Regions from separate parts of the Homo sapiens genome. Here regions 2, 3 and 4 are each linked to region 1. The links come from fine-mapping of genetic effects on gene expression. A gene starts in region 1. Each other region holds a variant in brackets. All regions are shown on one strand. Distances are from middle to middle.

Evidence for each region. PIP is the estimated chance that this variant, and not a neighbour inherited with it, causes the effect. A credible set is the group of variants that fine-mapping cannot tell apart.
Region 2: its variant is the best candidate, but not a certain one, in a credible set for the expression of NBN in nasal epithelium (TOPMed, PIP 0.69).
Region 3: its variant is the best candidate, but not a certain one, in a credible set for the expression of NBN in Th17 cells (Schmiedel 2018, PIP 0.72).
Region 4: its variant is the best candidate, but not a certain one, in a credible set for the expression of NBN in whole blood (TOPMed, PIP 0.50).

The regions. Positions count from the first base shown.
Region 1 is chr8:89,981,925-89,988,494 of GRCh38, forward strand. NBN (nibrin) reads right to left here and starts at 2,743. Exons shown (of 16, transcript NM_002485.5): 1 at 2,601-2,743; 2 at 798-931. The coding sequence starts at 2,637. RefSeq lists enhancers at 1,836-2,175, 2,307-3,103 and a silencer at 2,296-2,495.
Region 2 is chr8:89,882,158-89,888,727 of GRCh38, forward strand. It overlaps LOC124901974 (a long non-coding RNA gene), which reads right to left. Exons shown (of 2, transcript XR_007061001.1): 2 at 3,897-6,570. Among named protein-coding and RNA genes, the nearest start is that of OSGIN2, 17 kb to the right of the region's middle. The variant C/T (reference allele first, on the strand shown) is at 3,126.
Region 3 is chr8:89,939,842-89,944,841 of GRCh38, forward strand. NBN (nibrin) reads right to left here. Exons shown (of 16, transcript NM_002485.5): 14 at 3,412-3,525. Among named protein-coding and RNA genes, the nearest start is that of OSGIN2, 40 kb to the left of the region's middle. The variant G/GA (reference allele first, on the strand shown) is at 2,916.
Region 4 is chr8:89,873,587-89,880,156 of GRCh38, forward strand. No RefSeq gene overlaps it. Among named protein-coding and RNA genes, the nearest start is that of OSGIN2, 26 kb to the right of the region's middle. The variant T/C (reference allele first, on the strand shown) is at 2,830.

The sequences.
Region 1 (6,570 bases):
AGGTTATAGGCTAGTGTTTCTGACTTACAGTAACAATTTTACTTTTTCTGTAGAAATTTCCAAAATGTTTTTCTATACCTAAAAGAACAGAAACAAAACCTAAATAAAACTGAAGAAATTCATATCGCATATATGCAATCTTTGATTAAAATAATGGCTCATCTTTCTTATTACCACCAGCGTTATCATGAGTACAGATATTCCTATGTATTTTTTTTAGCACTTTTATCACCCAAGGTTATGATCAAAACAAACTGAAAGCCATTTAAAGGAGCTGTGGGGCATAAGTAAGCATTTCCCTAATAAAACAAATCAATTCCCATTGCAAAAACTTGTATTATATGAGAAATGCCCGTTTCCACACAGCTACATAACCTCTTTAAGAGCCAGAGTCATGAAGGTCTGTTCATTGTTCTATTCGCAGGGTTGGCACAGTTACTGACACATAAAAACACATTACTGCTAATGGCAAAAACAGCAATTACTTTTGCACCAAACTAATAGTAAACAATAAATGTTTAGTAAGCAAATAAAAATAACTATGTCCTACTTCCTCTGAGTTTCTAACTAAAACAAAGAGTAAATTACTGAAATAGAAACTTCAAATCTCAAAATGAACAAATACCACTGGTACCACTGCCACAATATAAGTATTTAATTTTGTTAACATTAAAAAAGTCTACACAGCTCTATAAAATGACAAATCCTGTGAACTCTCTCTCACATACAAACCAAGAGAATATTTTGTGATTTCAACCCCCTTACTGGAAACTAGTGAAATAAAATTAGTAACATACCAGGTTGGTTACAGAAAAGTTAGCAGTTAACACAGCATGATTTCGGCTGATCGACTGATCATTTTCAATCAGAATGGCACAGTTTTTCCTTCCAACAACGTACTCAACGCCAGTCAAAAGTCTGTATGGTTCTCCTGAGATAAATTTTTTTTTAAAAAAAGATAAGTTGATAGACACATACACATGTACACGAACACACACATACATGTAAGTGTATATGATATAGGTATGACAAATATTAAATAAAACACCTTTGTTATTCAAATGTTAGTCAACTTTACATATGTCAAACTTGTGTTTTCAGTAAAGCCTCACTGAAGGCTATCAAAGGTTATCTAACTATGGTGTTTCAGGAGTAACAACAACAAAATTTAAAATACAATAAAAAAGAGAAAAAGAAAAAAAGGTTATCTAAACAGATAGAAGGCTACATCATTTTTCTAAAGGGAAAGCAATGCTGAAAGGAGTCAATGTTCCCTCAAATTAACTTAAAAACTTAATGTATTACCTAGCAACAATCACAATATTATGTTTGGAACTTGATAAACAAAAATATCAGGAAACTATAAAAAAAGATGCTCAAGCCTGTAATCCCAGCTACTTGGGAGGCTGAAGCAAGAGAACTGCTTGAACCCAGGGGATGGAGGTTGCAGTGAGCCGACACAGTGCCACTGCACTCCAGCCTCGGTGACAGAGTGAGACTCCGTCTCAAAAAAAAAAAAAAATCAAGAAAAATGTGAATAATATAATAGGAGCTTGCCCTACCAGATGGCAAAATATGCCATAAAACTAAAAGTATGGTACTGGACCATGAGTAAACAACACAGACCAATGCAACAAAGTCCAGACTAAGATGCACGTGTACATTTTTTGAAAATTTGTTTTTATCTTAAAGATAACATCTCCAATCAGTGGGAAAGGGTTATCAGTTTCTTTTAAAATTGCTGTAAATCATAAGTTGTTGGAGTAACAGTATATATATTGGAGACATGCGGAGTTGAGTCTGGGAGCATAATTTCATTACCCGAGTGGCAGGGAGATTAGGGCAGATAAAGAGTAGGGAGTCCAGAAGAGCCAGGTCTCCAGGGACGCCTTGACCTGTGAGTCTTCACAGTATAAAATTTATTTAGTTTGGCGCTCTCCATACTCTCTTACCCTGCCAGTCCATTTAGTCTCTACATAGATCTTTGCCAATCATCATGTAAACTTCCCGAGGACAAGACCCTTCACACCCACCACGGGCAACCAATTAACATGTGATCACATTTCACACCGCTGGAAATGAATGGGAAAAAATCGACTTTTCCCATTGTTCTGATGACATTGTGGAAAAGGAGTCTGAAACAAAACTGAAAGTAAGCCTTTTCGTGGTAGTCATTTCCCCAAACTGTCCAGTAGTTCTTCACAAGTCATGTGTGGCCCCCGTGTGGTCCGCCCATGCTAACTTCCTGCCGGGGGTTCCCACTAGGCGCCTGCTGCCGCTTACCCGCAGGCCATCCAGCCCTAGCGCTGCAACGGCGCGGGGGTGAGGCTGGGAGGGAGGGGGAGTCAGGGGAGGGGCGCGGAGGACTGCCACCAGGGGGCGCCGCAATCACCCCACCGCCCGCGCTGAATTCCAGCTCACAGCCGCCGTGCTGCCCGGGAAGAATATGCGCTTGCCATACAGCGTACTCGCCGCTTCTGCGACCGCTTCCGCAGCGTCCCCGGGCAGGAACGGACGCGACGCAGGAATCACCCGCAGGCCCTCCCCCGAGGCAGTCGCTACCGGGAAAATAGGCCCCGAGGCTTCCCTTCTGCCCTTACCTCCTGCCGGGCCCGCGGCGGGCAGCAGTTTCCACATCGGTCCGGCTCCTCAGGGCTGGGGCCGACGTGCAACCGCGTAACCGGGGCTGCTAGACGAGCGCGGATACGGCGCCTGCGGTCGGCATGGGCTCCGGGACGTGCGCGCTCCCGGGAGCCACGCAGGCTGCCTTGGATGAGGCGGGAGTGCGACTTGGGCGCTTGCCCGCCACCTGGTGGTTGGAAAAGGAACAGCACAATCTGTATTGAAATGTGCTGCGTTAAAAGGGTATGTTTCTAAGGTGTCGCTGAATGTAAGGTTACTACCTTTCCTGATTATGAACGAAAAGAATTTTAAAAACTAACTCCAAAGCAACATAAGGAAAATTTTTAATTAAATGCATTAAAATACTTACCAGTTATGTAGTTTCGTGCGTTTGCAGTTTCTTAAATTGCAGGTATTCCTTTGGAATCTAGTAATGGTGATAATAATGATGAAGATAAGGATTTCACCTCGAAGTAAACTCATTATTTTTACTCTTTTCTAAGTTCAAATCAACTTGTCTTAACGTCTTTATTTCATAATGCCACACTTTCAGCTAATCACATGCTAAATACTGGGCAGTCTCCTGTATTTAATACCCTTCCTTTCCACTTCCACCTGTCTCAAGCTGGTTCAAGCTCTCCTCCTAATTCCAGTAGCTTCCCAACCCATCACCACCCACGTCCCACATAATGTAGTCTACATCCTGCGCACTACTAAATAAACATCTGAGAGCACACTCCTGATCACATACATTTTGGCTTTCAAAAGCATTCTGTAATAGGGGGGAAAAGTCACTTTAAAAAGGCTTGTTTAGGCCCAGCACCATGGCTCGCTCCTTTAATCCCAGCAGTCTGGGAGGCCAAGATGGGAGGATCACTTGAGGCCAGGAGTTCAAGATCAGCATGGGCAACATGGCAAGACCCTGTCTTTATAAAAAATTTTAAAGTTAGCAGGGCTTGGTGCCATGCTCCTGTATTCCCAGCTACTCAGGAGGCTGAGGCAGAAGGATCACTTGAGCCCAGGAGTTCGATGCTGCAGTGAGCCATGATCATGCCACTGCACTCTAGCCTGGGCGATAGAGCAAGACCCTGTCTCAAAAAAAAAAAAAAAAAAAGGCTGGTTTACCAATCTCTTATCATCATAGATGCAAACTCCTAAGCACAATATTAGCAAATTGAATCAAGTAGTAGTATAAAAAGAATAATCATAACTAAGTGAGATTTATCCAGAAACAAAAGGGTGGGTTAACATTGGGGGAAAAAATAAATGTAATTCATCATAATAATTTTAAATAGGAGAAAAATCATGATTATCTTGATAGTAGCAAAGAAATTGATAAAATTAAGCACCCATTTAGGATAAAAACCTCTCTGCAAAGTAGGAATAGAGAAAACATCCATGATCTGATAAAGGACATTTACAAAAAAAACTACAGTTTACGTTATACTTAAGGTAAATTATTGAACATTTCCCCATGACATCAGTAATGAAACAAGGATGTACACGCTCTTACCACTTATTTTCAGCATGGCTTTAGATGCTCTAGCCAATGCAATAAAGGAGAAAGAGTAACAAAAGACATTCAGATTGGAAAGGAAGAAATAACAGTCATTATTCACAAATTACACGATTGCCTATATTGAAAATCAAAAAAACTGTTGGCAAACTATTTTAATTAATAAATGAATTTAATAAGGTTATAGATACAATATCTAGATACAAAATTTAATTGTATACCTTTATTCCAGAAAATAAATAGAAAATTACATGTTTAATTATAATGGCACCAAAATAATCGAGTGCTTGGTAATACATCGATCAAACTATGTAATACAAAACATGATTGACTACATAACATTATTGACAGAAAGTTTAAAAAGTCCTAAATAAATGCAAGGATAATGGATCATGTTCACAGATTGTTAAGATGTCATTTCCCCCAAAATTGTTCTATAGATTCAATGTAACTTCAGCAATCTCAAATGCTTTTTTTGAGTAGAAATGGATGAGCAGATTCTAACATTTATATGGAAATGCAAATGCCTAGAATAGCCAAGGCAATTTTGAAGAACAAAGCTGGAATATTTAAATTATGAAATACTAAGATCTATTATAAAGTTACAGTTATTAAGTCAGTGTTTGCTTGGTACAAGGATAGAAAACAGGCAAATGAGTCAGAATAGAGGGACCTAAAAAAAGTGGACACATAAGGTAATTTGATTTTTCGAAGGTGATTACAGGGCAACAAAGGAAAGTCTCATGTGACCCCACCCCACCCCACAAATAAATGATCCCGTTTATTAACGTGACACAAGAAATGTGTTAACATAACACAGGAAATGAAGACTGATCCCCCTAATTCATTTAGATGAATTAGAATTCATCTAAATTCCAGATGAATCATTATTTACATAGGAAAGTAAAATAATAAATATTAGTGGAAGAAAACATGATTTCAAAGTAGGCAGATCTTTCTTAAGTAGGACACACAAAAGTATGCCCTGCATCATAGAATCCCTAAATTTCACTGATTTAGTGAAGCATCAACATTTTGCAGGAATTTTCTTCCACATTCTGAAGTATACATATCTCACCAAGGCCTCCAACCTGTTTGCCAAATCCTTACTCATCCAATCTGGTGAGCATAATACCATCACTGTAGTAGAACAGTGGATGTTCTGCAGCATGTCCAGACACTTCAGGTCTCTTGGGAATACATTATGATAGAGGTTAAGGAGATACAGCTTAGCTCTGGGTCAACATTGCAAGTATTTTCTATTATTTTTTCTAATTAAATATGAGCACTTTTGGATTCTACTTTCTGTTAAGGTTGGGGAAGCACATGTCATCATATCAATCACCCCAAACCTGTTGCCTGAGGTCATGTTGTTCTGCTCTTGTAAAGATTTCACATCTGGTACAGCAGCTCTAATTGGGGTTATTACTTTGTTGATTGCAGTAGTCGGCTGTTTATTCTCCAGGAACTGTTAGGCTTTTGTAGGTCAAGTATGATGAATTAAATGGAGATAAAAAGGGAGCCAAAAAGAAAGCACTAATATCTATCATTCCCCTATATTGTTCTTGCTCACTGTCATGGCTGTACAATTTGAGGCTGCTCCCTGTTGGCCTTGCCCGCGTTGATAGTTCTTACCCTACAGGCCAAGGAGCTGAGGTGGGTATTGTAAGAACTACCAAGGATGTTCATTTCAATTATATATTTGGGAACTAGGAAAATGACCACCACGTAAGTCTATGTGTTCGGTGGACCCACTGTATGCCAGACCTGGACAAGGACTCCCTTAACTCTCTGGCTTCTGAATACCTCTGCTTTAACCAGGAGTCATAATATTTTGGGTTCATGGGTATCAATAATGATCATGTCCCACAGCCCTCCAAGTATTTGGGCATTCTCTTTTCCTCAGTGTATGATTTTCCAAGCGAATGGCTATAGGTCCCTTAAGGGAAAGACTGAGAGTAGGGTGGGGTGCGGGGAGGTCATTACCATATATTCTTGCTATGGGATTGCAGGGTCCTTCTTACTGGCAGTCCTGCCTCTCCACCAGTCAATGGGTTCTGGATTGGCAAAGTGGCTCAAATCAGGAAATTCGGAAAGAGACTGTGACTTTTTGTTGAGGCTGCTGCTCTGAGCCTTGTGTCTTCCATTCTTGATACCTGTTCACTGAACAGATTGAGTTTACTCTTGGTTAACTGTCTTTCCCCACAGGGGTGCCTTATTCTATTAAGCATCTTTTAAGCTCACTCTGGGTCGAGAGCTCTGCTGCCACTTCAATCTTGCCACTCAAGATAATTATACCATTCGGATGGTTAAGTACCACCAGCTGGCCTCTATCATTTCAGGATTCTATTATCCCCAGTCCTATCTGGGAACTCAATTCCATAACAGCATCTTTTATCATCAACCATGACCTACAGAGGAGACCTACCACT
Region 2 (6,570 bases), 100 kb before region 1:
TGGAAAAAAAATAATTTTACTGTGCCCGAGGAATGATGGTCATTTAGAAACCACATAATATTATTAGACTAAACTGAGCCAACTATTTCAAGGGGGGTGGGGAAAACGAAAAATTCTTTACTTATCATCACCTTTGTATCCATGATACAAGTAAATGTTATTATAGTGATAAGGAAATGATTAATAAATCCAATCAGAACTCCTAAGAAACAATAATATAATGAAAGATTAGAAAGACTTACAAATATTAAATAAATCAATGAATTGTAGGTTAACATGTCAACACAAGCTGATATTAGAAAGACCCCTTCCTCCCAATACAAACACATGGATCAAATATAATAATGGAAGATTTGGTTGTAATGTCAAGCTTGAAATTGACAGGAAAATCTCCAAACTAAATTCCCTGCATACAACCAGGAGTCGTAAGGGGCTGATCATCCCATGAAATGAAAGAAGCTCAGCCACTGACCCTGCCTAGGAAACTGTAAGGAAGCTTTGCCCTCTGTCTAAAATATTAGGTGGAAAAGAAGTCACCCACTGGAAGCCAGCACCTCCGCCTGCAGGTAACTGTGGAATGATCCTAAACTGAGATGTTTGCATTGTAACTGGTCCAGGTATGGCAAAATCCATCAGCCTAGGCAGAGGCAAATGTGAAACTACACTGTGGTTCAGATTCCATATCCTGAGTACATAACAAGAATGCCCAAATCAACCCCCTGCTGGAGAAGAATTTACAGTTGGAGATTATAATCTGTTTAAGGAAATAAGTGAATCACTGTAAGAAAGTATTAGCCAGACACAACAAATAGGAGAATTTGTAAGCCAAGGAAGAGAAAAAAGGATATAGTTTAGTTGTAAAGATACTTTGAAATAAGTATTTGTAAGGAAGGAAGGAATACAATGACAATGAAAGAACAAGGCTGTATTGTAAGTCAGAGCAGGCAGATTTGTACAGGAGCCAAACAGAATCCTCCTGCAAATAAAATATATACTCATGAGAAAAAAAAAACACTTCAATGGATAGAGTTCAAATCTCTTTTCTTTCATTAGTTTATCTACAACTCTGGTGGTCTTTTGTTACTTAACTCTGGAGATTAACTCTTACATACATGTTTTTTTAAACAGGAAAGACTAATTTCCCCTGCCACCCTGGAATTGCATATGGAAGACTAGATATGCTTTACATCCTTTTTTGGAAATTGATTGCAAACTCTAGTTTTGAGCTCTGGATGCCACACTAAATTTCTAGCATACTTAACATGAGTTTTCATTGATTTCTATTAAATTAACATAAAAATACACACAAGCACATTTCTTGGCACTCTCCCAAAAGGACACCCTTTTCAAATATCCTAGTTATAGTAAAGTAACAGGTAATTATTAGTTAATCAAATCATTATTTTAACTGTGTCATGACTGGTACATATTCTAAAACAAAATTTTAAAAATAACAATTTACATTTATAATTAAAACTATGATTTCTGGTACTTATAAAATCTGTTTTTAGTCGCAGAACAAGGAAAAAATATGGATATTCTAGTAATACTATGCAACTGATAATATCACTATTACATAAATGAAAATTATCTTATTTTAAAAATAGTTTTGCAATTTAAATACCTTAAAATGCCAAGTTAATAATTATTCTCCTACCATAGAAGCATATCAAGAATAAATTATATAATGGTGGAAATTCATGTTTTCTTTCCAAATAACCTTGTATTTGGTATATTTGGCATTACAGTTCTTTTTCAATTCTATAGAGAATAAATGCAAAATTGTAGTGGATGTTCAACAGGAATGAGAGTCTTCCAATAAGTCACTGTTACTTGTTAAGTACCTCTTGTGACTGATATCCAAATCAAGAAGCCATGTAACAATGAATATACATACTATACATATGCAAGAACTGCTAGGTCATACAAACTTTTATTGACTGGGGAGACTAGTCTTTTAAAATTAAAAGAGAATAAAGGGCAAAACAACAAAAATACACTTAAATGGAAAAAAATAATATTAGTGTCTTTATAAAAAGCATCCTACTCAGTGGCATAAATTTAAATTCTGAACGCTCTGGGGGGAAATGTAGGAAATGGGTCCCTTTCCAAATATAATTTTGCATCTTAAAATTCAAAGGACCCATCAGCACTGAAGAAGATTAGGTAAAAAGAACATCAAAAATACAAAGAACAGTTGTATTTATTCTTTTTTTTTTTTGAGATGGACTCTCACTCTGTCTCCCAGGCTGGAGTGCAGTGGCGTGATCTCAGCTCACTGCAACCTCCACCTCCCGGGTTCAAGTGATTCTCCTGCCTCAGCCTCCTGAGTAGCTGGGATTACAGGCACATCCCACCATGCCTGGCTAATTTTTTTTATTTTTAGTAGAGACATGGTTTCACCATGTTGGCCAGGCTGGTCTCGAACTCCTGGCCTCAAGTGATCCACCCAACTTGGCCTCCCAAAGTGGTCAAAGTGCTGGGATTACAGGCATGAACCACTGCGCCCGACCAAGTTGTATTTATTCTAACGCCTTTTTTTAAAAGATAAAACGGATTAAGGGAAGGTAATGTATTTGCAAAATACTGATTGGATAGGTTTATACAGCACCAACCATACAGCAATATTTAAATCAAACTCTGATAAAAAAATGAAAATAATTTTCCAATGGTGAATATTCTTAATAACTTTGCTAATAAAGGCTGAGAGACTGAATATGCAAATGGACAATGGCCAGAACATATATAAAAATCAAACTTTGACCAACAACCTTTAGCAACCTGTCCAGGGAAGCAACCCTCTTATCTACAATAAACAGTCAAGAAAGCCAGTCTGATGTAAGTCAGAATTGCAGGAAGCCAGGTTGCTATCTCTAGTGAAAATCCAGGAAGCTAAACAAAACAATCAGTCCCAAATCGTTAGGACTTGATTAATAACTGACAGCTTCCCTAATTGTTGTCCCCACTTCCAACTTAGAACCAACTAGATAAAGCCAAATATGTACCCTAATCAATCACATACATGCTCTGCTTCTGGTTTGCCTGTATCCAGTACCCCCATGCCAACTGCCTCTGATCAGGGCATCCCAGAAGCTTTTCCACTCTTTTGCCTGCTTTTGAGTGTC[C/T]GCCAAAATGCCAGTGAAAACGGCCGACTCCCTTGCTATAGCAAGCTCAGAATAAATAGCCTTTGCTTTTCTCATTTTATTGGTCATCATTTATTTTCACAAATGCATGTAAACAGAAGGTATTACTAAAGTTAGTATTTCATAAAAAGTTAATCATTTAGCTCTTATCATGAATCACACACTGTATTAAATGTTTTTGCACGAGTTATCTAATTTAATTTCATAATAAATATAAAAATTATTACTGAAATTGATATTACTATATTCATTTTACAGATGAGGGTACTGAGGCAGAGAAATATTGAATAATTTGTTTAATACTGAGATAAGGGCCAGTGCAGTGGCTCACATCTGTTGTAATCCCAGGCCTTTGGGAGGCCGAGGCAGGAGGACTGCTTGAGTCTAGGAATTTGAGACCAGCCTGGACAACATAGCAAGACCCTATCTCTACAGAAAAATAAATTAAATAAATAAAATTATAGAAAAAATACTGAGGTTATAAGCAGTAAATCAAGGGTTAAAATCAAGACAATCTGATTCCAAAGGGGATAGCTCTTAACTACTATAGTAAATTGGACTTGAAATATGGAGATAGCTGCATATTTTAATTGCTATCAGAAGAAAATAAAAAACACAAAATTAACATTTTATTGTATTTCAACCTCACATGTGGTCACAAAGTACTATATAATAGAAGAGAAAAAAATTGAATTCATTTATATCAACCTCTTTCTTTTATAAATAACCTAAGTGACACTGAGAGGAATGAAGTACTTTGATCAATATTACATATTTATTTAACAGACAACATGAGATTATAGCCCAGATCTTCTGACTGACAGCCCAGATATCCAGCAGGCTTCATAGGGGTACAGAATATTTGCCTGGTGAGGTATATAATTCTTCAAAAAACTTTATGCAAGCGTGTAATGCTAGCACATTCCAAACATATTACATAACATGGGTTAACACTTATCTTTTATGGAGATAATGAGTTAAATGCTATTTGAGAGGCCACTGAAATTCAACGAGTATTTATTGAGTGCTCAGTCATGTTCGGTATTGTTCTAGATACTTAAGTTTCATCAGTGAATGAAATGAAAAATACCTGATCATATTTGTTTACATTCTAGTGGGTGGAAACAAACATTACACAATAGGTACAAGAAGTGGGCAAATTCTACGTTAGACACTGATAAGTGCTACGATAAAAAGAAAGTAGAGCAGAGTGAGCTTGGGAGTGCCATTTTGGCGCCTGGCGGGCAGGTCAGTCTCATTGAGGAGGTGAGGTAGTAAGCTATGCATATAGGAAGGGAAAGTGTCCCAGGCAGAAGGAACAGCCAATGCAAAATTCTGAGCAAGTTCTCTTCCTTAGAATATCAGGTTGAAAATCGTCGACAAAGTGGTTCAATGCTCTAATCTGTTTTGCCCAATTCAATCAATTGTGCAGAAATTGCAGGTGACTTTTATATTAATGATTTGAATCATGGGACTGAGGTCCCTTCACTACATTTTCAATTTATTTGGTAGTGGTGGGAGTTGGAAGGAAGAGCATCAAAAGGGGAAGAGGTGGTGCCTGGGCATCGATGTTTTTAAAAGCTCCTTGGGTGATTCTAATATGCAGCCATGGTTCAGAGCCACTATTCTGGTACAGGTGGGAAAGAGAAGGGTGTTTTTTTTGTTGTTGTTGTTCGTTTGTTTGTTTTTCATTCCTGTTCTTAGTAGTCTGCTCAATATGCTCATCAGGCTTGCTGCTCGAGTTGTCACCATCTGGAACTCCAAAACTACAAATCCCCTTCACAGAAATCCTGGGACCTCCCGTCAACCCCACTGGAGGTGAAACACAGGAGAGGTCATATTTCTTCTTTATGGCTCCATTTGTGAGTTCCCCATAACACCAACAAACAAGACTGTGTATGGGTGTGAGACGACTGAAAAAGTTGTTAGAGAATGAGAATGTAAGAGGAACGGAGAGAAGAGGGTAGCAACATGGTTGGCATAAAGTGCCTAGCAAAAAGTTTTAAGAACAAGTTTCTCTAATATTCAATTTTAAATCTGGCACTGTGGTGACAGAAAATATCTCACGTCCTCAAATCTTCAGTAAAGTCGTTTCATTTACATGTGTTTGGCAAACAGTAAGTGTCTGTTAGATGAAAGAACAAATGAACTCAAGGGGGCGAATGCAAAAAACAACAGGCCCCCAACCCAACCCTTTCCAATGCCTCCAGTGTTTTTCCCAGAGGCAACCACATTTACCTCATTGTTTTTAGTTACCCCATCTGTAAACAATCTGCTCATGCTGTGAATTTTTGATGTCTCAATCTTAGATGTTGCATACTCACTTCCTGCCAAGATAGATGAAGATTTAACTACATTAAACCACCACAAATTTTCCCTACTCATAACAGCTAATAAATTATATCACTAGTCAGCATTGCACTTATTACATTTGCAACTTTAAATAATGTAACTCACAGTTCTTGCTTCAATATAAACAATCCCTCTTCACTTTGCCAGATAAGAATTTTGTATCCCTTACCCTTGTCTTCATCTTTGGTTCCTTTATTACACTATCATGCTTCACATTTACAACCTGTTTTGTAACTATAGTTAAGCAATTCTTGCTTTGCCTACAGGTGGACTGTATTTTTGAAAATCAGTAAAGGCTATTTATGCTACATCTGTGTAAACAGTATTCACTGTCCATGAAAGTTACCTTCTATGTCTCTATTTGTTTTTTGGTACAGCTTTTTGTCATATACCCTACTCAATTAAATTATAAATTGCCTTTTTACTTTGTCTTGAATTGTCTTCCTTTATGGCATCATTAGACTAGATTCTTCCAACATTTCCAGAATACTAGCAAATCCAGGAACTCCTTTTTTTCTACAGGCAGTTCTTACAGTCCTGAAGTCTTTCAATCTGGATAGACAGGCTTCCTGTTGCATAACTATCCTGGAACTTGCGTTCACTGCATTTCTGAATTTGTTCCACTGTTTCACAGACCCAATCCACTTCATTTCCTTCAACAAGTCCCTTGTTTTCTTGGCCTGTATTCTCAAGAAACATCCTAAAAAAGAATATTAGTGAGGCAAAGCTTTCTCAAAAGTTTGGGTTTCATTTTCTTTTTCATTCTGCCCACATTATTTTATCAATAGTTTGGCATGGTATAGAATTCCAAGTTCAGGAGGCGTGGTGGCTCACACCTGTAATCTCAAATCTCAATATTTTGGGAGGCTGACGAGGGAGGATGGCTTGAACCCAAGAGCTCAAGACCAGCCTCCGCAACACAGCGAGACCCTGTCTCTAACCAATTTTTTTTTTTTAGGGGGAGTTTTGTTCGTGTCTCCCAGGCTAGAGTGAAATGGCGTGATCACGGCTCACTGCAACCTCCGTCTCCTGGGTTCAAGGGATTCTCCTGCCTCAGCCTCCCAAGTAGCTGGGA
Region 3 (5,000 bases), 43 kb before region 1:
TAATAATGCTAGGTTATTCTCTTTTATATAGGGCACACTCCCTGGTATAGGACATTTAATTAAAATCCCAGGAGACAGCTAGCCCAAGCTGCACACAGCTCCAGCTGAGCCTTTCCTCTCCCAGATTCAATGTCTTCAGACAACAGAAACTAGATGGGATATGCCATGTGCCACTGACTGTTTCAGCATAATGCCATACTGACAGTGAGGCATGAGGGAATTCTGTTCTTTAATTTTTATTTTATTTATTATTATTATTTTTGAGATGTGGCCTTGCTCTGTCACCAAGGCTGAAGTGCAGGGGCTCAATCATGGCTCACTGCAACCTTAACCTCCCAGGCTCAAGCAATCTTCCCACCTCAGCCTCCTGAGTAGCTGGGACTATGGGCACATGCACTACCATGACCCGCTAATTTGTTGTGTTTTTTTGTTTGTTTGTTTAATTTTCATTTATTTATTTTTTTGTAGAGACAGGGTCTCAAGATGTTGTGCAGGCTACTCTTAACTCCCGGGTTCAAGTGATCCTCCTGCTCCCAAAGTGCTGGGGTTATAGTCATGAGCCACACCATTGTGCCTGGCTGAATTCTGTTCTTATGGGCAAGACAAGAATGTTAGAAGTAATTTTGATTATACTGAATTTCTGTCTCACAAACTGGCTTCTGAATGTAATCCCTGCATGAGATGGCATATGATCCTTTATGTAGCAAACAGAATATCTGGAAAAGACATTTCCCTTTACTCAAGTGAAGGCAAAAAACAGAAAAGCTACTCCATCTACTAGAGGAAAAAAAAAAAAAGGGATATTGGAACAGAACATGCAAAAAACAGATAAAGAACCTAATCTGCAGGAAATAATAATCCACGAATAAAAAGTAAAATAGAAACATGAAAGCAATGAAATAATGACAAAAAATCAGATAATAGAACAATGAAATGAAAAAAGAACAAATGCTAAGTAAAAGAACCATAATAACAGCCTTTCAGAATTAAATTAGAAATAGCTAACACTTCCCACTGTTATAAATGATTTATATGTAGTATCTGATTTAATCCTCATATGTCTGTGAAATAAAGGTACTATTATTATTCTCATTCTGCACAGATGGAAGCAGAGACATTAAGTAATTTGCCTAAGGTCACATACTTGGTGAGAAACATTATAGACACACCTGAAATGTAAAATTTTGATACAGTGAAAGAGCCTAAGAAAACCACAGTGAATGCAGAAAAAATAGATGTGGACGACAAAGGTAATCCAATGAAAGGATAGTTATGTCTTAAATGTCTTATAGAGAGCCCAGCAAATATAAAATATTTAAAATATATAATAGAAAAAAGTTCCTTGAGAAAGAGAATTACACCTGCAAATCAAAACAGCATACTATATGTCAGGAAAAACTAATGGAGAATGATCAACACTGAGATGTATTCTGAGTGTTACTGGCTTTCGAGCTTAAGAAAGATGACTGGTCATGCATGCAAGTCACCTAAAAAGGGAAAAACAGGACTGGCATAAGGTAAGGGAGGCTAGGTGGGAGGAAGTACTAATAATGTCCTCACTTTTCACTGTAGCGAGCCAACAAATAATTGTATGTGAAGTTAATATGAAGTTTAAAACTACCCATTCCGACTTACAGTGATTTTTATAGTTTTCCTCCTTAATATTAGACAGATCTCACAAAATAAAATATCTTGGAGGGAAGAAACATTTATAGAAATTCAGCAATGCCTTCAGTTTAACTTCCTCCTATCAATGTCTCTCTCTTCCTTCCCAGTCTGTCCCTGCCTCTCACTACTCCTCAATGAAGAGATGTCTGGAATATTGTTCACTTAACTGTTTAAATAGGTAATTTCTGGGCTTTAGGTTTTCACATCTTCATTCTTTGTGTACTGCCATAATTCTGTGGAATGCACATGTTACAAAATAAGCCAATTATTCTTTCAAAAAAGAAAAGGAGAAAGGATGTGATTTCCATTCTTTCATTTTTTAAAAATAAGTATCCTGAGTGACCTTAACAACTCTACTTTCATAAGTGACTTTCCTAAATAACCCTTATTTTAAAATAACTGAGAAAAAAGCACTTTTAAAAGTGAATTACACTATACCCACTATAAAGCAAAATAAGGAACCCTGAGAGGTTAGCAAGGACCACAGTCAGCTTTTGCCTTGCCCTATGAGTATCTGCAAGTCATGAAAAACCTGAACTCTGCTTTAATGTCTATACGGGGTATGAGTGATACGAAAGAAAACCCAAGATGTTGACTTTAATAAAAGACCCAGCACTAAAAGAAGAAAGAGAAATAAACCTTACAACACAGAAGGAGCTAGGAAAGAAACTTGCCCATCTTCATTCTGGCACTTAGTGAAGGAAATAAATAAAAATCTCATTTGAAGTTTCTAATGATAAGCCAGCCTTCATTCACTCCAGCTTCTGGTCCAAATATTAATACATACTAACTGTCTGGGTGATTCAAAGAATCACAAGGAGAGATTTTAATTTGAAGTGGTCTCATATTGGTAGAAGACTCGAAGATAGAAAACGTATCTTTTCTAGAGGAAATACATCTGAACTTAATACTCAAGAAAACCCTACAGATCGAGTTACAAAGAAAACAATCAGCTCATATTCAAAAATCACAAAGCACAAACTTGAAAACAAGGTACATAAGAGCAGAAAACAGATCAAACATTTTAGGTAATGGTATCATTAGGCAAATAATATAAAAGGGGAAGCTTGAAAAACAGCAAGGAACAAGAAGATTTAGAAAGAAATAAAACAGACTTCCAGTAATGAAAAAATAAATGAACGGATGCAATGCCAACTAGAGTTGAAGACAGTAGTAGTAAATCGGAAGATGATCTGCAGCAGTTGCCAAAAATATAACCCAGGGAAACAAAGAAATGAAATACACAG[G/GA]AAAGACAAATGGAAAAGAAAATTTAACTTACGTTAAGTTGGAATTCCAGAAGGAGATAATGGGGAAAACAGTAAAAAGGTAACTAATATTCAAGAGAATGAATAAGAAATTTTCAGAATTGTTAAAACACAATCCCCAGATTTAAAAAGGCCAGTCCCTTGACATACATTTAAGTGATATATTTGTAATATCCTCCACATTCTTTTAGTTTCCCTTAAATTTTTGTGGCTTTTATCTCCCCCTTTTCATTAGGATGTAAACTGAATTTCTTAGGTCTCACCTTTTTTTTTTTTTTTAACAAAAATAAATTTAGTATTCTTTTAAAGAAGTGTTATGGAAGGGTATAGATTAATGCTCTGTAACTCAGGAATGCTCCTGAATGAATGACTTTATGTCACTTATTTTAATTTGGTTTTAAGAAGAATTTGCTTGAAGGCCACCATAATGGACCAAAGTGCAATTTAAGCAAGTTTCTGGGCCTCACTTCCTACTAACCTCCATTTCCTGCCTTAGCCACTCTTCTAGTTCTGTATTCTTTCGAGCATGATGAGCTATTAGATCTGATCCTCCAATGATGTGTGGAAGTTTTCCTGCTCCAGGATATGTGACCTATTGAATAATAAAAGTAGTACAGTAAATCATATTAACAAACAAAAATGACCATTTTTTTAAAAAGATTAAAAAGCAAAGATGGTAAATCATGCATAAGTGCCAAAGATGTTTATATTCTACAAATAAAAGTGAGAGCAGTAACTCTGTTCTAAACCCATCTGTTTTTGCCCTTCTTTTATAGCTATTACTATATACAGATCTGGACATGTCATGGGATTTATGTATTAAAAATAATTTAACACTTTTCATTTGGAGTTTTTATTTTAAAATGGCCTTACCTTATCATTTAACAATTAAAGCAACTCAAGATGAACACAAACACTACAATTCAAAGCACTGTATTTTGTTCTAATGACTTCAAAGCTTAAGCCCTTTCTAATATTGATGAAAATTTAAATCTTTTTCAAAACTTTCCAGTTCACAGAGTCCAAGCAGGAGATGTTGGGGATGCCAACAATTTATACTTCTAATTGATATTTTAATTGTTTACTAGTAAAGAGGTGCTTTAAGAAAAGAAAATTCCATGTGAAAATGCCCATCAAGATCATTGTTAATACTTGTTATTAGTTAATAACATTGTTAATAGTAACAGTTCCTTAATATTTGTAACATGCTTTTAAAATTCCAATATATGAAGTAGAAAGAGAATTTTAAATTTATTTTCACCCCTAAGCAGTATTTTAAAAGTTTAAAAAACGCTATGTCATTGATTTGGAGGGTTTTTTGTTTGTTTTGAGACAGGGTCTCACTCTGTCACCTAGGCTGGAGAGTGCAGTGTGAGGAGAGAGAAAATCACCTGGTGACCATGGAACAGGCCCCAGAGACAAAACTTCTTCTCTAAGCAATTTAGAAGGGGGCAAAGACCAACCGGTGACCATCAAACAGGCTAACTGGAGGCAAAACTCCTTATCTGGGTAATTTAGAAGTAATCAAACTTCCCTAGTATCTAAAGTCGGCTTCTGATTCCAGGCCTCTTTCAACTTTTATAAGTAACTAAAATTTTTATACATCTCTGGAATGCCATGGTGAAACTCATTTTACAATCCCAAGCTCCCACCTTAAGGTCCATAAATGCTCCTAAGGACAATCCGCCACAGTGTGCTCAGTCCTCTCGCTGAGGCACCCCTCTGCATTCTTCTGCAGTGTTCTTCCTTTCTAATAAACTTTCCTTTTCCAAATCTATACTGTTGTCGGTAAATTCTTTTCACCAACCCGCAAGTTGACCACTTCCTGGTGCTGGGGCTCTGATACCTGGCCCGGCACAGTGGTGTAATCTTGGCTCACTGCAACCTCCGCCTCCTGGGCTCAAATGATCCTTCAACTTCAGCCTCCTGAGTACCTGGGACTACAGGCAGACATCACCATGCCTAGCTAATTTTTATATATTTTTTTGTAGAGTTAGGGTTTCACCATATTGCCCAGGCTGGTCTCGAACTCCTGGGTTCAAGCCATCCACCTGCCTTGGCCTCCCA
Region 4 (6,570 bases), 110 kb before region 1:
GACATGGTGTATTTTTAACCCATTTATTGCATTACTTACTTTGCAGTTGGCAGTCTGGTCTCTGTTGAGTTAACAAAATGGAATATAGTATAAAGCAAATAAGCACCACATTCATATAGCTGAGGCCCACAGAAGCAGAAAGAACTATGCTAATAAGTAAAAATACCAGGATCTTTAAATGGAACTCGGCTAACACATGATAACTTTTTTTTTTGGTATTAAACTTATTTTGTCTAAAATATAATCAAATCCTAAAAGCTTGCATTATTATTAGACCCATTTCCATCTAGAAATAGCGACTGATTGATGAAATCACTAAACAAACTCCATGCTGGAAATCTTAATCATTTGAGTTATTTCTTAAACCCCTCTTTGCTTCAAATACCTTATATTCCCCAAGCCCTACAGTCCCTCCTTTGAATAATATAAATGGGACCTTTATGCCTTAAGTAAACAATGAAACATGCTTTGTCTTTTAGAAAAACATTCTGCAGAAATTTTCCAAAATAGAAATAGTATGTTTTCTTCACATTTTAACTGTGGCAAATGTTCTATTTGTACAATCTAAAAAAAAAAAGTCCCAATTGTTCAGTGTAATATCTGACAATCCACAAGAACCAAAACTATAGTGAGTGTCAAAAATAGGCTGGGCGCAGTGGCTCACGCCTGTAATCCCAGCACTTTGGGAGGCCGAGGCAGGGGGATCACCTGAGGTCAAGAATTCAAGACCAGCCTGGCCAACATGGCAAAATCCCGTGTCTACTAAAAATACACAAATTAGCCAGGTGTGGTGGCAGGCACCTGTAGTTCCAGCTACTCGGGAAGCTGAGGCAGGAGAATCGCTGGAACCCAGGAGGCAGAGGTTGTTGCAGTGAACCAAGATCGTGCCACTGCACTCCAGCCTGGGCAACAGGGCAAGATGTCATCTCAACCAAAAAAAATAAGTAATAAAATAAAATAAAATAAAATAAAATAAATAAAGCCACAGCAGTAAGCATGTGAATAACAAAAGAATCTTAAAATTTGTTAGGCCAGGCGTGGTGGCTCATGTCTGCCATCCCAGAACTTTGGAAGGCTGAGGCGGGTGGATTGCTTGAGTTCAGGAGTTCGAGACCAGCCTGGGCAACGTAGCGAAACCTCATCTCTACTAAAACAAGCTGGTTGTGGTGATGCATGCCTGTTGTCTCAGCTACTCTGGAGGCTGAGGTTGGAGAACTGCTTAAGCCACGGTAGGTCAAGCCTGCAGTGAGCAGTGATTGTGTCACTGCACTCCAGCCTAGGGGACAGAGTGAGCCCCTGTCTCCAAAATAAATAAATAAATAAATAAGAATAAAATAAAATTTGCTTAGCAAAGAGCATAACACTACAAATAGCAAAAATTAAAGTATTATTTAAGCCAGCTTATTGGATTTATGCTTTTTCTTAGGTGTTTAAAAATCAATTCTAGTTCTTAATAAGAATTACTTAAGTTATGGAGTTGTATTTACTAAGATATCTAAAATTAAAATAACATCATCAGGATGCTGATCAAAAGTTGTAAATTTTAAGATCAGTGAAAACTGTGAACTACAAGGTTTTATATTTTCTTCTAGTCTGGCAGGAGGTTTGGTTATTATTTTATTACAATTCATTTCTAGTCTCAGAACTGTTGTGTTAACTGAATAGTCACAGGACTAGGAAGAAGGGAAGATACTTTTTTCCCTCCTCTTTCTCTAGCCTAATATTCTGGCTAATTTTTAAGTGATTTTTATATTAATCACATGCCTACTGCTGTGATTTTACTTTTCACTCAACTATATTGCCTCTAGCCCTACTTCAGAGCGATCACTCTATCCCCTTATCCTTACCATTTAATAATCTCTCCCCAATATTTGGTCCTAATCTGTGGCAGTGCAAGAACCTTGGCAGTGCAAGAACCATGGCACTCAGAGGTACCAGGGTAGTTGGCAGTAGCAGCCACTGATTTAAAATAAAAAGCAATGGAGAAGCGGACCACAAACCAGCACCAAGTCAACCAACAGGCATAACCAAACTCCTCTTGACTGCTGTCCAATGCTCACTGTCCCCTGAACCCCATCTTGTCCTAAAACATACACTCTGAAAAAGGCATGTAAAGAGTCAGCTCTGGGAGTTCCAACAGTAGTGAAAAGAAGTAGTAGCATAACATCATCATTAAGGGAGATCTCACAACTGCTAGATATTTATGCTTAAAACAGTATCTTGTAGCATTATACACGTTCATATATATATGATCATTTCCCATGCTCAACAATTTTCTAAGGCAGGTAAATCAGCGGAAGAAAAGTAGAGAAACTGAGATACGCAGTGATTTCTCCAAGTATACATGACTAGGTGCATATGGCACTGATGTTTTCAGAGTATAGTGGTTTAGAGTGTACTGGGGGTCCAGACTTTGAAGGTTGGAATCTTGATTTCACCATTTCTGAGCTATGTGATCTTGAGTAAGTGATTTAATCTCCTTATACTGTACATGGGGATTTTCACTGGGTTGTGTCAGGACTAAATATATTAATATATGTAAAGCACTCTGGGACAGTGGTCAAGCTAAGTGTGTGCTTCTATTCACTTCCCAGGAAATAGCATTTTCTAATCTCTTGATTTAAGTAAAAAGAAAAGTCAACATTTTTGCTTCTGGATTACACTGCTTGTCCAATCTTTAGATAAATAGCCAGGTAAGATTCTAAAAGAAGCAACTAGCCTGGGAGAAGCAACTGTCCTAGGAAGGCACTAAATATAGAAGGTAAAAAGGTAATCACTCACCAGTAACAAGCTCAGATGGCAAAAATCCACCTGCTCCCAGAATGTAAA[T/C]GAGAAGCCTAGTTGCTTTCTGAGCTGGTCAGGCTGCACCCTCTCATTCCGCGTTAAGTAGTAATCTACCCATCCTTTAAAAACTATTGTTAACACTCTATTATCTGAAGGGAAGTCAAGAATTAGATCCTCCTTGGCTTCGCTTATGTCCAATGAGTGATATACAAACATGATTTGTTATTATTAGGAATAAAATACTTTTTATAATAAAAATATTTACTTGGTGGTGTGAGGTATACATGGATTAATATGTACAATCCTCTTAGAAGTGCTTGATGTTAATTATTAGCATGTGCCCTCTTCCTTATTTTTACCCACCGACCCCTGACAATCATGCCAGTCACACACTCAACCCTGCTTTCAGCTGCTTTCACTAAATTACCATAATACCTCTGGGACAACAATCTCAAGATGTAGTTCACTGTTCTAACTTCCACATTATCCAAGGTCTCATTAAGGGTTCATCTAGGGAAGAAGCCTGTGGGACATTTGAGATATCTGGAAGTGGCTAGGTGTCCTTGCTGTAAACCCATCTGTGTCCTAGGGTAGAGCCCTCCCCCATTTCAGTGAGGTGTGAAGAGTCTTTGCAGAGGGCTTTAGGAATGGACTGTTGTGAGCTTTCCTTCTCACTCCCTGTTCCCATCCAGCCCCTTGTGCTCCCATTACCAACCACATTTCTAAATTTTCATTTGGATTGCTTTATTTCTGACCTAGCTTAGCTAGCCATTAAGCTCTGTCTTATTTATATAATTATGAGGTTGATTTTTAAAAAGTATATAAGGGAAATATGAGTCTTAAATTTTTCTTAAAAAAATTTTTTTCTAGCTGTTTGTCCACGTTTCCATGTTTCAATTTTCAGAACAAATTAGTTTTTCTTAAGACATTCTCTGCAGAAAGACAACACTGCATACTCAAATTCTTTTATTTATTTAAAGATTGTGTCATTCCAGATAAAGAACTTGTTTTTCTGGTAAGAAATAACTTACCTTAAATGAATTCCTTATGTCTCTTAAAGCAGGGAGGAGCCTGATCTCTAATATAATCTGTGAATGTAACATCCATTAGAACACAACATGGTTTGCTTTCCACTCTTTCATTTAAAGAGTTTTATATTAGACCTTGGCCGTATATTTGGAGTGGAGGAAGAGAACTGTGATAGAGATATGGCCATGACCATCTAGCTTTCTCAATGGACAACTGGATTTGATACAAAAAGACCTCAACCCTGAGCCAACCCAAACCTGTAGTACACTGCGGGATAAAAACACAGAAAAGAGCCAGGTGCGGTGGCTCACGCCTGTAATCTCAGCACTTTGGGAGGTCGAGGTGGGCGGATCACAAGGTCAAGAGATCGAGACCATCCTGGCCAACATGGTGAAACCCCGTCTCTACTAAAAATACAGAAATACAAAAATTAGCTGGGCGTGGTGATGCGTGCCTGTAGTCCCACCTACTCAGGAGGCTGAGGCAAGAGAACTGCTTGAACCCGGGAGGTGGAGGTTGCAGTGAGCCAAGATCGGGCCACTGCACTCCAGCCGGGACAGAGCAAGACTCCGTCTCAAAAAAGAGAAAACAAGCAAATGAACAAACAAAAAAACCCAAAGAGAAGAGTTCAGAATGGGACTTACCTGGTTTTGATGTTTAAGTTAGTAAATCCCATGTTTTATGCCTAAATGCTCAACAGGAAGGAATATAATTAAATGTTATGATATAAAACAATAGTGTACACTATTAGGAAATTATTAAAATAAGATTTTAAAAGAATATTTAATAAAATCAGAATTTTAAAAGTATGTGTATATATATCTAGTATATGTTTATATCGGTACATATATGTATATTATAGAAGGAAATATACAAAATATTAACAGTTGTTACATTTAGTGGTATGCTTCTTATATCTCTAATTCTCTTTTATTCTTTCTTTCTTTTTTTTTTTTTTTTTAAAGAGTCTTGCTCTGTCACCCAGGCTGGAGTGCAGTTGCACCATCTCAGCTCACTGCAAACTTTGCCTCTTGTATTCAAGAAATTCTTGTGCCTCAGCCTCCTAAGTAACTGGGACTACAGGCGTGCACCACCACGCCTGGCTAATTTTGTATTTTTTGTAGAGATGGAATTTCACCATGTTGGCCAGGCTGCTCTCGAACTCCTGACCTCCAGTGATCCACCCACCCTGGCCTCCCAAAGTGCTGGAATTACAGGTATGAGCCATCACATCTGGACTCATTTTCTTTTCTTTTTTTTTTTTACAGAAATATATACCCTTTTTCTTAATTTTCTGTAATGACCATATATTACTTCTAAAGTAGAAATTTAAATATATTTTAATGGAAGAGGGTTATTAGCTTAAACATGTTTGAAAATTATAGAGAATAAATGTTTTTAAAAACATTCCAGGCTGGGCATGGTAGCTCACGCCTGTAATCCCAGCACTTTGGGAGGCTGAGGTGGGTGGATCACAAGGTCAAGAGACTGAGACCATCCTGGCCAACATGGTGAAACCCTGTCTCTACTAAAAGTACAAAAATTAGCTGGGCGTGGTGGTGCACGCCTATAATCCCAGCTACCTGGGAGGCTGAGGCAGGGGAATTGCTTGAACCTGGGAGGCGGAGGTTGCAGTGAGCGGAGATGGTGCCATAGCACTCCAGCCTGGCAACAGAGTGAGACGCTGTCTAAAAAAAAAAAAAAAAAAAAAAAAAAAAACCACTCCAGATGTTTGATAAACCCACAATGTCTCTTCCTAATAAAATTCATTTTTCAAGAATTGCTAAACTGGCCAGGTCAGTGGCTCACACCTGTAATCCCAATGCTTTGGGAGGCCAAGGCAGGAAGATCATTTGAGGCCAAGTGTTCTAGACCAGCCTGGGTAATGCAGTGAGACTCTGTCTCTACAAACATTTTTAAAAAAAAATTAGCCAGGCATATTGGTGTGTGCCTATAGTCCTAGCTACTCAAGAGGCTGAGGCAGGAGGATCACTTGAGCCTAGGAGTTTGAGGCTACTGTGTAGCCTGGGCAACAGAGTAAGATCCTGTCTCAAAAAAAACAAACAAAAACAAACAAACAAAAAAACAAGACAATAAAAAACAAACAACCCAATAATGGGCAAAAGATTTGAATACCCACTTCACTAAAGAAGATATATGAATTGCAAATAAACACATAAAAAGATGCTCGGCCAGGCGTGGTGGCTTATGCCTGTAATCCCAGCATTCTTGGAGGCCAAGGCGGGTGAATCACCAGCTCAGGAGTTCGAGACCAGCCTGGCCAACATGGTGAAACGCCGTCTCTACTAAAAATTGAAAAAATTAGCTGGGCGTAGTGGTGGGCGCCTGTAATCCCAGCTACTCTGGAGGCTGAGGCAGGAGAATCACCTGAACCCTGGAGGTGGAGGCTGCAGTGAGCCAAGATCGCACCACTGCACTCCAGCCCAGGTGACAGAGTGAGATCCATCTCAAAAACAAAACAAAACAAAAAGATGCTCAACAATATTAATAATTCATGAAAAGCAAATTAAAACCACAATGAGATGTCACTACATATCACCAGAATGTCTAAAATCAAAAGACTGACTAACATTAAGTGTTGGTGAGGATACTGAGTGACTGAAACTATCATGTATTGCATGTGAGGATGGAAAATGATACTGACACTTTGGAAAAGAGTTTGGAAGTTTCTTATATGGTAAACATACTCTCGGGTGATAACTCAGCATTCCCACCCTTAGGAATTTCCTCAAATAA